3 linked regions of the Homo sapiens genome follow. The protein of the gene in region 2 interacts with the protein of the main gene of each other region in a pairwise test. Each region holds a gene or a part of one and is shown on either strand. Other genes may lie near its edges. The genes, in order: CDK16, SPDYA and AQP1.

What was found.
Region 1: the proteins of SPDYA (region 2) and CDK16 interact in a two-hybrid assay, tested with the Homo sapiens proteins (one study listed by IntAct).
Region 3: the proteins of SPDYA (region 2) and AQP1 interact in binary tests that used the Homo sapiens proteins (3 or more experiments, as listed by UniProt).

Annotation. Positions count from the first base shown.
Region 1 is NC_000023.11:47,225,181-47,228,680, reverse strand, and holds part of CDK16 (cyclin-dependent kinase 16), read right to left. Parts: intron 2,910-3,500; coding exon 2,815-2,909; intron 2,717-2,814; coding exon 2,654-2,716; intron 2,403-2,653; coding exon 2,279-2,402; intron 2,099-2,278; coding exon 1,978-2,098; intron 1,870-1,977; coding exon 1,772-1,869; intron 1,688-1,771; coding exon 1,582-1,687; intron 1,501-1,581; coding exon 1,458-1,500; intron 1,303-1,457; coding exon 1,212-1,302; intron 115-1,211; coding exon 37-114; intron 1-36. UniProt on the Homo sapiens protein: Protein kinase that plays a role in vesicle-mediated transport processes and exocytosis. Regulates GH1 release by brain neurons. Phosphorylates NSF, and thereby regulates NSF oligomerization. Required for normal spermatogenesis.
Region 2 is NC_000002.12:28,845,193-28,848,921, reverse strand, and holds part of SPDYA (speedy protein A), read right to left. Parts: intron 1-3,729. UniProt on the Homo sapiens protein: Regulates the G1/S phase transition of the cell cycle by binding and activating CDK1 and CDK2.
Region 3 is NC_000007.14:30,914,742-30,918,470, reverse strand, and holds part of AQP1 (aquaporin-1), read right to left. Parts: intron 1-3,729. UniProt on the Homo sapiens protein: Forms a water channel that facilitates the transport of water across cell membranes, playing a crucial role in water homeostasis in various tissues.

The sequences.
Region 1 (3,500 bases), on a different chromosome or scaffold from region 2:
GGTGGGGCAGGGAGGAAGACAAGGGGCTATACCTACCTGAGTCAGGCATCGACGAAGACCGAAGGCTGGCCTCCTTTTGTAGCTGAATCTCCTTTAGTGCAAATATGGAAGTAGCTACAGATGGGGGAGACATAGAAGTGGGGGATGACCCATGAGGTCATCTAGGACCAGCCCCATATGACCCCATGGGAAGAATTAGAAAAAGCTGCCCCTTCTCTGAGAGGCTTGACCTTTATCTGTCAAACAATTCCATACACAAACCAGCTACAACCAGGGAAGATGAAATATAGACTATTACATGACACAAAGAAATCATTATTAACTTTGTCAAGTGAATTATGGTATTGCAATTACCACCTGTTAAGTCTAGGTGATGGGTGGTGTTTGGGGTTTGCTTTATATATTAATCCAGTGGGAAGATAGGGAAAGTGAGCAAATGTTTTTTGTAGGTTTGATAATAATATTGTTGTTTTAAAAAAATCTTTTATAGGTATATGCTGAAATTATTTAAGGATAAATGCTATGATGTCTGGGATTGGATGTGATTCAAAATAATCAGAGAGAATATAGATAAAACCAGATTGACCATGAATTGATGACTCACTGGAGTACTTAGGGACTCATCATATTACTTTGACTAATATATAAATACATATATTTGAAAATATCCATATTAAAAAGTTTTTAAAAGCCAGATATAAAAAGAACATCACATGTGATTCTATTTCTATAAAGTACAAGGACAGAAAAAACTTATCCTTGCTGTTAGAGGTCAAAACAGTGGCCACCCTTTGGGAAGGGGCTGGGAATAACTGAAGGAGATGCAAGGGAGCTGGGGGTGGGGAGCTTTTAACATTCTGTTTCTTGACTTTTGTGCTAGTTACAAGGATGTGTTTCATTTATGAAAATTCATTGTATAGTATACTTATGATTTGTGCATTTTTTAGCACATGTAAGGAAATGTCTACTTTAAAAAAAGTAAAGTGCTATTGCATATATTTTTATGTATGTTTTAAATTTTTCATGAAAGGTAAAAGGAACTGAAAACTAAAAAATGTTTTCATAACAAATACAACCCATCACACACGTGAACAAGATGTCCCCCCACGTAGAGGTGGCACAGCCAGAATCCTACACAACCCGCCAGCTGGCCCCAGCAGTCCTGTTTCCCAGTCCCCACGCTGGCCGGTCCATTCCCCAGCTCCACTCACTGTCAGGAAGTTTGTGGATCCGCTCCCCCAGACTGAGGAAGAATGGATGTTTCATGGCATCCTCTGCGGAGATCCGATTTCGACCCTCAAACTGAGTGGGGGTGCGGGGAGGGGGATAGTATTGATATCTTCAACAAGTAGGTCTCTCTGCCCACCTCAGACCCTGCCCCTGGTTTGAGGGGGGGGGTCCCTGTTTCCCCACACTTGGAATCCCATACCCCCAAGGCTGACCCAAGGTGGTCTCACCTGCAACAGCTTGGTGAGGAGGTCGGCCCCGTCGCTATCAAGTCTGCCACAAGGACAAAGAGACCTGATTTAAAATGAGTTTGGACACTCTGGCCCCTAACGCCCACCCACCCACCAGCCTCACCGGGGTGCGTGGCTCAAAAGGGCCTCGGCTCGGTACTTGGGGTAGTTGTATGTCTTGAACTCCTCGTTGGACAGGATGCCTGGCCACGTCTCCTCAGTTGGGGTTCCTAGTAGGGAAGAGGAGTTATCCCAAACATTTCACAGGTCCTCCCCGTGTGTCTCCACAGCGCCTAGGGCCCATGCCTCCTCACCTAAGATACGGAAGATGAAGTGTAGCTGTTCCTCCACCGTGGAGCCCGGAAAGAGGGGACGGCCTGTGGCCATCTCATAGAAGATGCAGCCCACACCCCTGGGCAGGGAGGGCACAGTGAATAGAAAGGCAGCTGGCTGGGTGGCTGTTGTGACCAAGCCACCCCCTTTACCACATGGCCCCTGCCACACTTCCACCTGTCCTTACCACATGTCAATCTGAGTGGAGTAGTCCGTGGACCCAAGCAGGATGTCAGGGGGCCGGTACCACAGTGTCACCACCTCATTGGAGTATGTCTTTGTTGGGATTGACTTGGCTCGGGCCAGGCCTGGAAATCAGAGAAAGGACAGCTAGAATGAGGGAGTCATGGGCAAAGTCTCGGGGAGAGTGCAGTTGAGACTGAGGGTGTCCTAGGCAAAATCTGGCAAGGCTGAAGGGAAGTGAGACTAAGTGGTCATGGGAAAGTAGGAGGCTGGGGAGCCAATAAGAAAGGGGAGGCCAGTGGTACCAAAGTCAGCCAGCTTGAGCTCTCCCCTCTCGTTGATGAGCAGGTTCTGGGGCTTGAGGTCTCGGTGTAGCACCTTCTGCCGGTGGCAGTAGGCCAGGCCACGGAGCAGCTGGAACAGGAACAGCTGGGGACCCAGGAATGGCAGGCAGAGGTCAAAGACTATCCACTAGCCCGACCCCCAGCAGGCACTGCTCCCCTCCCAAACACAGACACTAGGCCCAGAGCCTTGTCACACAAAAGAGGACAGGGTCCCAGTGCCCTCCAAGGGCTCCTAGCAAAAAAAGCCAAAGGGAAAAGTCCGTTTCTGGGAGATTTGTGGGTTGGAGTGGGTGAGTGGGGGCCCCCTTGTGCCCCTGCTTCCTGCCCCACACCCACTTTCACGTTGTGCATGTTGATGATGTTCCCACAGTCATCCAGGTACTGCTTCAGGTCCTTGTCCTGAGGAAAGAAGAGGTGGTACAGGAATGAGGGTTACTTCCTATGGCTCCTGGCCTTCTCCTCACCTCCCCCTGGGACCTACTGCCACTCAACCTTACCAGGTACTCAAAGACAAGGGTGAGGGACTTCTCCGTGTGGATAATGTCATGTAGCGTAACGATGTTGGCGTGTTTGAGGTCCTTGAGCAGGGACACTGCAGGAAGCATGGGAGTGGGACAGGGGAAGAGTCAGGGTCCTACCCTCAGGACAGAGGTGAGGACAAGGACTAGAAAGGGACAAGCCCAGGTTTTCTTTCTTTCTCTAGACAGTTCAGGGTAATGCCTCGGAGCCACCAGCTCTAACCCGCCTCATGCCAGAAGAAAGTTGTGTCTCCATGTTGCAGATGTGGAAAATAAGACTCAGAGGAGAGTATGGAGCAAGAACCTGGGATTGCAGCCCCAGGCTCATGTGACACTAGATTTTCACAACCTGTTTTTGGTTTCTGGGAAGGGGCCTGGCTCCAACCCTCAGTACATAGGCCTGCAGCATCGCGTGAAATCGAATTTGCACACTAAATTTCAGTGCAATTCAAATTCATTCCATGTGATATTCTGACTAGAAATTGTTACAGTAAATAAACTGGTGAGCACTTTCAGGGGTGTTCTCAGAACCAAACCCTGGTTTGCAATTCATCTACCTTTTATCCAAATGGGAACAGATTCCTGGTTACCCTGATTATTACCTGGATATGTGGGTGACAGGCATTCCCATGAAAGCCAGAGTGTTTTGGGGGGTCTTAGAACCA
Region 2 (3,729 bases):
GGCACATGCCACCACGCCCAGCCAATTTTTGTGGATTTTTTGGTAGAGACGGGGTTTGTCATGTTGCCCAGGCTGGTCTCAAACTCCGAAGCTCAAGCAGTCCTTCTGCCTTGACCTCCCAAAGTGCTGGGATTATAGGTGTGGAGCCACCATGCCCGGCCTGTTTTATGGGCTGTAAAATAGTAATGCCTTGGAGGGTAAATGCTACCATTCCTAGATTTATCTCTTAGGCTAGAAGTATTTAAAATTATACATGTGTGTAAATTTTTTATTAAATAACATATTATAGAACGTAGGACATTTTAAAGTAAAATCTCTGCCTTTTTAGAGTTTATAGTCTATGATAGAGCTTGACATTAATCACACAGATGTAAAACTAAAACTGTTATAAATTCCCCCCAAAGAAGTACAAGGTACTATGAGTAACCATAATGGGGGACTTTGCCCTAGCAAGTGACAATTGAGCTGAGAACTGAATGCTAAGTAGGAATTAACTACAGCAGGGAAAATGGGAATAAAAAGTGATGCTGGGGTAGAGTGGAAAAGACTGGATAGATAGATGGGGATGAGGCCATGCAAGTTCTCATATGCCCGTGAAGGAATTGGTGTATCCTAAGAAAAATGGGATTCCATTGAAGAATTTAAGTAAGGGGTGACATGTTTAGATCTGTGTTTTGAAAATCACTCTGGCTGCATTTAGACAAGTGATTGAATCAGGAGCAGAGTATTCTGGTGGTATATTTCTGTATGTAACTAGCTGAACATTTATATAATAATGATGCCTTTATAGCTTTTATAACATTTCCAGATACAGTTATACATTGCTTAACAGTGGCAGTACATTCTGTTAAATGCATAGTTGGGCAGTTTCATCATTGTGTGAACATTACATAGTGTACTTACACAAACCTAGGTGGTATAGCCTACTACACACCTAGGTTATATGGTATAGCCTACTACTTCTAGACTGCAAACCTGGATAGCATGTTACTGTACTAACTACCATTCGCATTTATAAGACAATGGTAAGTATGTGTGTATCTAAACATAGAAAAGGTACTGTGTTGCAGTACAGGTCTATGATGTCAGTAGGTGATAGGAATTTTTCAGCTCCATTATAATCTTTCCTTCCATCCTTCTTCTTTTCTTTTCTTTTTCTTTTTCTTTTTTTTTTTTGAGACAGAGTCTTGCTCTGTTGCCCAGGCTGGAGTGCAGTGACACGATCTTGGCTCACTGCAACCTCCAACTCCCAGGTTCAAGCAATTCCCCGGTCTCAGCCTCCCGAGTACCTGTGATTACAGGTATGTGCCATCACGCCCGGCTAATTTTTGTATTTTTTTAAGAGACAGGGTTTCACCATGTTAGCCAGGCTGGTCACAAACTCCTGACCTTAAGTGATCCATCCACCTGCCTCGGCCTCCCACAGTTCTAGGATTACAGGTGTGAGCCACCATGCCCAGCCATTATAATCTTAGGGGAACACCATCCTGTATGCAGTCCCACCTTGAGTGAAATGTCATTATGTGGCGCATGACTATATAGAAGCTCTGAAGTGTTTGTTTGTTTGTTTGTTTGTTTTGAGACAGAGTCTCGCTCTGTTGCCCAGACTGGAGTGCAATGGCATGGTCTTGGCTCACTGCAACCTCCACCTCCTAGGTTCAAGCAATTCTCCTGTCTTAGCCTCCCAAGTAGCTGGGATTACAGACACACGCTCCCACGCCTGGCTAATTTTTGTATTTTTAGTAGAGATAGGGTTTCACCATGTTGGCCAGGCTGATCTCAAACTCCTGACCTCAGGTGATCCACCCGACTCAGCCACCCAAACTGCTGGGATTACAGGAATGAGCCACTGCACGTGGCCTGAAGTCCATTTTTTAATTCCATCATGGAATACTCCCTTTTCTTCTACCCTTCTATTTAGCTAGTAATGAAATTATGTTATTCATTTAATGCTTTGAATGCCTATTTTGTGTCAATCCCCAATTGTCTACTTTGAGAAGGGGCTGGCTTAAGAGCCAAGAAAAGTTCTGCCCTTGGCTCCTGTTTCATGGAGAATACATTGTTTCTGTTTGGCACATGGTGCTCAGTAGATGTTGAATTGAACAAGACCTTTTTAACAGTATCCATTCATTTCCCCTCACTTCCCTTTGTGTGTGTGTGTGTGTGTGTGTGTGTGTGTGTGTGTGTGTGTGTGTGTGTAGTTTTCTTCTATTTCTCTTCTTTTTCTTTGGTAGTTGTCCATTCTAGTCAATCAAGGCCCAGCTTAAGCTCTTTCTTCAGCCTTCCTCCAAACAATAAGTATGTTTACAGTCTGGTTTATGGGACAGATACCTTCTAATGTTAGCCTTCTATGTCTATGTCTGGCTGTCCTGTAAACTAAAGATTTGAGACTGACCGAAAACTGTCATCCCAATGCCTTCCAGAGGCCCTACCTTTTATACCCAGTAAATAGTCACTAAAACTTTCCTGATGTCTTTAAACCTACACTGGATCATGTTTTTGTTTTTGTTTTTTGAGATGGCATCTAGCTCTGTCACCCAGGCTGGAGTGCAGTGGTGCAGTCTCAGCTCACTGCAACCTCCACCTCCCAGGTTCAAGCAATTCTCCTGCCTCAGTCTCTGGAGTAGCTGGAATTACAGGCATGCACCACCACCACGCCTGGCTAATTTTTCTATTTTTAGTAGAGATGGGGTTTCACCATGTTGGCCAGGCTGGTCTCGAGCTCCTGACCTCAAGTGATCTGCCCGCTTCAGCCTCCCAAAGTGCTGGGATTACAGGCGTGAGCCACCATGCCCAGCCAAGGGTCATGTATTGTTTTATCTGTTGACTTGGTTGTTCTAGAGGGAAATTTAGGTATACATAGTATATAGTTCTGCGATTGTGGGAGGCTTTCATTTTGAACTTCATATTTTCAGAGGCAGTGGGAACTTCTGAAGTTTCTATGGTCATGTAAAAGGTATTTTAAGTTAATCTGTTAGTGGTGTCTATGAGAATTTAACTGGAGGAAAAAACTGTTAAATCAGAGCTTTCATAGTAATACATATATAAGGTGATTAATCGTAGAAAATGAGCAGACAGGTCGGGCGCGGTGGCTCACGCCTGTAATCCCAGCACTTTGGGAGGCTGAGACAGGTGGATCACCTGAGGTCAGGAGTTCGAGACCAGCCTGACCAACATGGTGAAACCCTGTCTCTACTAAAAATACAAAAACTAGCTGGGCATGGTGGAGCATGCCTGTAATCCCAGCTACTGGGAAGGCTGAGGCACAAGAATTGCCTGAACCCAGGAGATGGAGGTTGCAGTGAGCTGAGATCGCACCATTGCACTCCAGCCTGGGCAACAAGCAAAACTCCATCTCAAACAAACAAAGAAAGAAACAAAATATTATGAAAGAACAACCAGATAAGCTGGTAATTCATTGGATGCAGAGAGAAAATTTATATATCGAGACTTTTTGACTTACAATGGAGTTATGTCCCAATAAACTCTTGTAACTTGAAGATATCATTAAGTCAAAATGCATTTGGGCCAGGTGCAGTGATTTACATCTGTAACCCCACCACTTTGGGAGGCCAAGGTGGGAGGATTGCTTGAGGTCAGGAGTCCGAGACCAGCACCAGTCTGGGCAACATAGGAAGTCTCTACAAAAAAAAAAAGAAAAAAAAAAAAAAAGCTGGGCATGGTGGCACGTGCCTGTAGTGCCAGCTACTCAGGAGGCTGAGGTGGGAG
Region 3 (3,729 bases), on a different chromosome or scaffold from region 2:
CACACGTGGACATGGGGGGATTCCTGGTTTTGTGTGCCTCTGTGTGTCTTTGTAGATAAGTGTCTGCTGTGTCTGTGATGACCACATGTGTCCAGGGCTGACTCCCTCTTTCTCTTTTTTGTTAGATTGTAAGTGGTTTATTACACAATAATTACATTTTAAAAATCTATAAAAGAACTGGCCAGGCGCGGTGGCTCACGCCTGTAATCCCAGCACTCTGAGAAGCCAAGGCGGGTGGATCACAAGGTCAGGAGATCGAGACCATCCTGGCTAACACGGTTAAACCCCGTCTCTACTAAAAATACAAAAACAAAATTAGCCGGGTGTGGTGGCCTGTGGTCCCAGCTACTCGGGAGGCTGAGGTGGGAGAATGGCATAAACCCGGGAGGCAGAACTTGCAGTGAGCCGAGATGGTGCCACTGCACTCCAGCCTGGGCGACAGAGTGAGACTCCGTCTCAAAAAAAAAAATAAAAATCTATAAAGGAACTGCAAAAATCCCCCACTTGTATGCACCAAACAACATAGCCTAAAAATAAATGAGGGGAAAATTGACAAAATTACAAGGAGGACTGGATCACCCTACCACCAGAGTGAAAAATGTTAACAATCTTCTATTAGAAATGTACAGAATAAATGAAGCAGCCGAAAACTACCAATAACATGATCAGGGAGGGTTTGAACCCCATAATTAACAAGCTTGACTTCAGAAAAATATGAAAACCCTGTACCCCTGAATTAGAGAATGCACACTCTTTTTCATCAACTGATGAGGTACTGACCAAGTGCCTCGGCCTCCCTGGGAACAGCTATATCATACAGGCATCCCTGCAGGACATGAGGTCCTGGAGGCTGTGCTGTGTGTTTGCACTGGTATGTCTGATGGCACTTCTGGGTGCCTCACTGTCTCCCTGTGTCACACACCCACATAGCTGCCACTACCAGCTAGAGAGGGAAGAGAAGAGAAAAAAATGAGCCCCCCATGTGAGAAAGCAGCAGGTCTCAACAAGGCCTTTATTTGCTCCCAGAAGCCATTTCATCTTCCTGACAAGAAACAATACACAAAGCAATGGCTTCCTCCCTCCCTCCCTCCTTCTTTTCCTAACTCCAGGGCAGGGAGAGGAAAAGGCTCCATTGAGGAATCCCCGCCCAACCCTCCTTGGGTCCCAGAGTCTGAGTGGGACCACCCAGTCTTGAGAATGTGCTTTGTGTACCATGTGTGTGTGTCCTCCACGTAAGAGCACATGTGTGTGCATGTTTGTGTTTGTGCCATGTGTGTACACTTTGGAGCAGCAGGAATAATCAAGGGCTAGGAGGCAGTGCCACCTTGACAAGTCTCCACGCCTCTGTGGGCTTCAGTTTCCCCATCAGTAAAATGGAGGCCTTGGCCCAGATTCGAGCCCCCGCAGTCTCCAAAAGTGCCTCCTGCCTCACATCGGGGTGGTCACTCTCCAGCCCCAGATCCAGAAACCTAAGCACAGGATCCCCCGCAGGCCATCAGAATTGCTGATCTCAGCATGACACAAAGCCTATGCTGCAGAACCTGTCACCCACCCCACTGGACCCCCGCATAGACTAGCACCCCCAAAGCAGCCTCCTCACCAGAAAGCATCTACTTGCACACCCCTAATGGCAGGGAGCTTATTGACTTAGAGACAGCCCCTTCTTCGTGTCAACAACAATATCAACAACAACCTTCTTTACACTGAGTAGAAATCTGCCTTTCAAGGGGCCCTGACAGCGAGATTGCAGGCACTGAAAGGAGCTGCTGGAAGGGCCGGGGGCATTTTCCGGCCTTTCCGGATATCTTTTAAGTTGGAGATTTCAGCCTCAGAGTCTGCCCACCCCACAGAACTGTAGCTCCTGGCTGAGTGAAGACAGCCCCTCATGATCCCCCTGGGCACCACTCCATGTGGGCAAGGAGCCCCTCTCATCCCCATGGGGAAGCCCTGACTGAGGGGATCCTGGCCACTTGCAGGGCCTCGCGGACAGCATTTTCCTGCCTTCACCTCCCGGTGTGAGGGCTCAGATCCCAGCCACTCAGGAGACTCCAGACTCATTGGTGCTTCCAGAAGGTAAGGGCCATGGCCCCTGCTGGGTGGGGGCCCTAGACTAAGTGGGGGTACCATCTGGAATTGGCTTGCAGTGAGCTAATGGCCACTTCATGCTGCTAGAAGGTTGCCTGGGGTGGAGAAGGGAAGGCAAGGTGTGACAGGAGGCTGTGGCCTGGGAGTGGTGAGCAGGGGGTGAGCCCCTCAGACAGGTATCCCAGGAGGCCGTGTCCCCTCTCAAAGCATGGCCCCTTCAGAGTTCCCAGGGCAAATCCCAGTCAGGGCCAAGCATCAGGGTGGGCAACACTGGGACCGGCTGGGCTGTTCTGAGGTCCCTAAAGGGGAAGCAGCGTCAGGATTTTCCATGGTGAGGGAAGTCTCCACCACAAAGCTCCCCATCTCTGTGCCCTCCCCCTCATCTGGGGCTGGCGGAAACAGTAATTATATGTCCCAGATGTGGCATCACCACCCAGCCCCCAGCCCCTCCCTGGGCAGGACGGGCTGGGCAGGGACATGGAAACTCTGCCTTCCTTTCCCCATCCCTCCCCTGAGCTCTGGAGGAGGCAGCAGCACCCCCGGGAGAACTGGTGGCATGAAGAGGCCTCTCACTCTATGACTGGGGAAACTGAAGCCCAGAAAAACGGGATAAAGGGGAGAACTTAGGGCTTCAGTCAGGCCCCTGATGCTGCAGGTAGAAACACTTCTTGAGCAGTCAGGCCTGGAATTAGCAGGGCTGGGAGAAGACCCCGAAGAGGGTAGCTTTGCCCTCTGCCTGAGCCCAGCGGGCTGAAATCACAGGCTCTGGGAATCCAGACCCCTTCCCCCGGATGCAGCCCCTGGCCCGAATCCTGAGCCCTCACCACCCTCCTCCCATGCACCCCCAGCCTGACCATACCCAACAACTCCCGTACCACGGCCCTCACCTCCTCCTAGCCTGTGCTTGCTCACACAGTCCCTCTGCCCCTTCCCTCTGCAGTGTCTCCACATTCAGGCTCCTACGAAACCTCCTCCCTGATGCCTTCCTGGCCCTCCCACCCCTTAAGTTCAAAAGTTCCCGGGCCCGCCCTGACACCTCTTATCGCATCTGCCTCCTGCTTCATATCACAGGCAGCTGGGCACTGGCTTATCTTGACCTAGGGCTGTGGGCTTCTCTCGGGAGGGAGCCGGGCTAACCCAGCCCTGCATTGAGCACCCAGCAGTCCCTGGTCATGCTTGCAGGGAGCCGGCTGAGCAGACCAGACAGCAGAAGAATGAAAAAAGCCAGCAAATGCCAGGAATCCTGAGTCCACCAGCATCTCCTACTTCTCAGAGCCCAGCCACACCCTGCTATGTCCCTATCTCATAGACAGGAACTAGGGCCACACAGGCCAGTCTGTTGTGTGATGCCACATGGTGTTAGTGGCTGAGCTAGGACAGGGACAGGTGAGAGTGTCCACCCCAGCCTCAGAGCCTCTCACCCTTAGCCAAAATTGGTATTTGGCTCTTAGAACTAGCCGGGACCTTGCAGGCTGGACGGAGGCCCACGGTCTCTCTAGGGCATATCCTGAGCCCTGAGTCAGTCAGGAGAAAGTTGTCCCCAGCATGTCCCGAAGGGACACCCCCTGACTCACCCCAACCACTTCCTGCCACATCTTTCTCTGTTTTCCTTGGAAATCTCCATGCCAACCACTTGCCCCACCC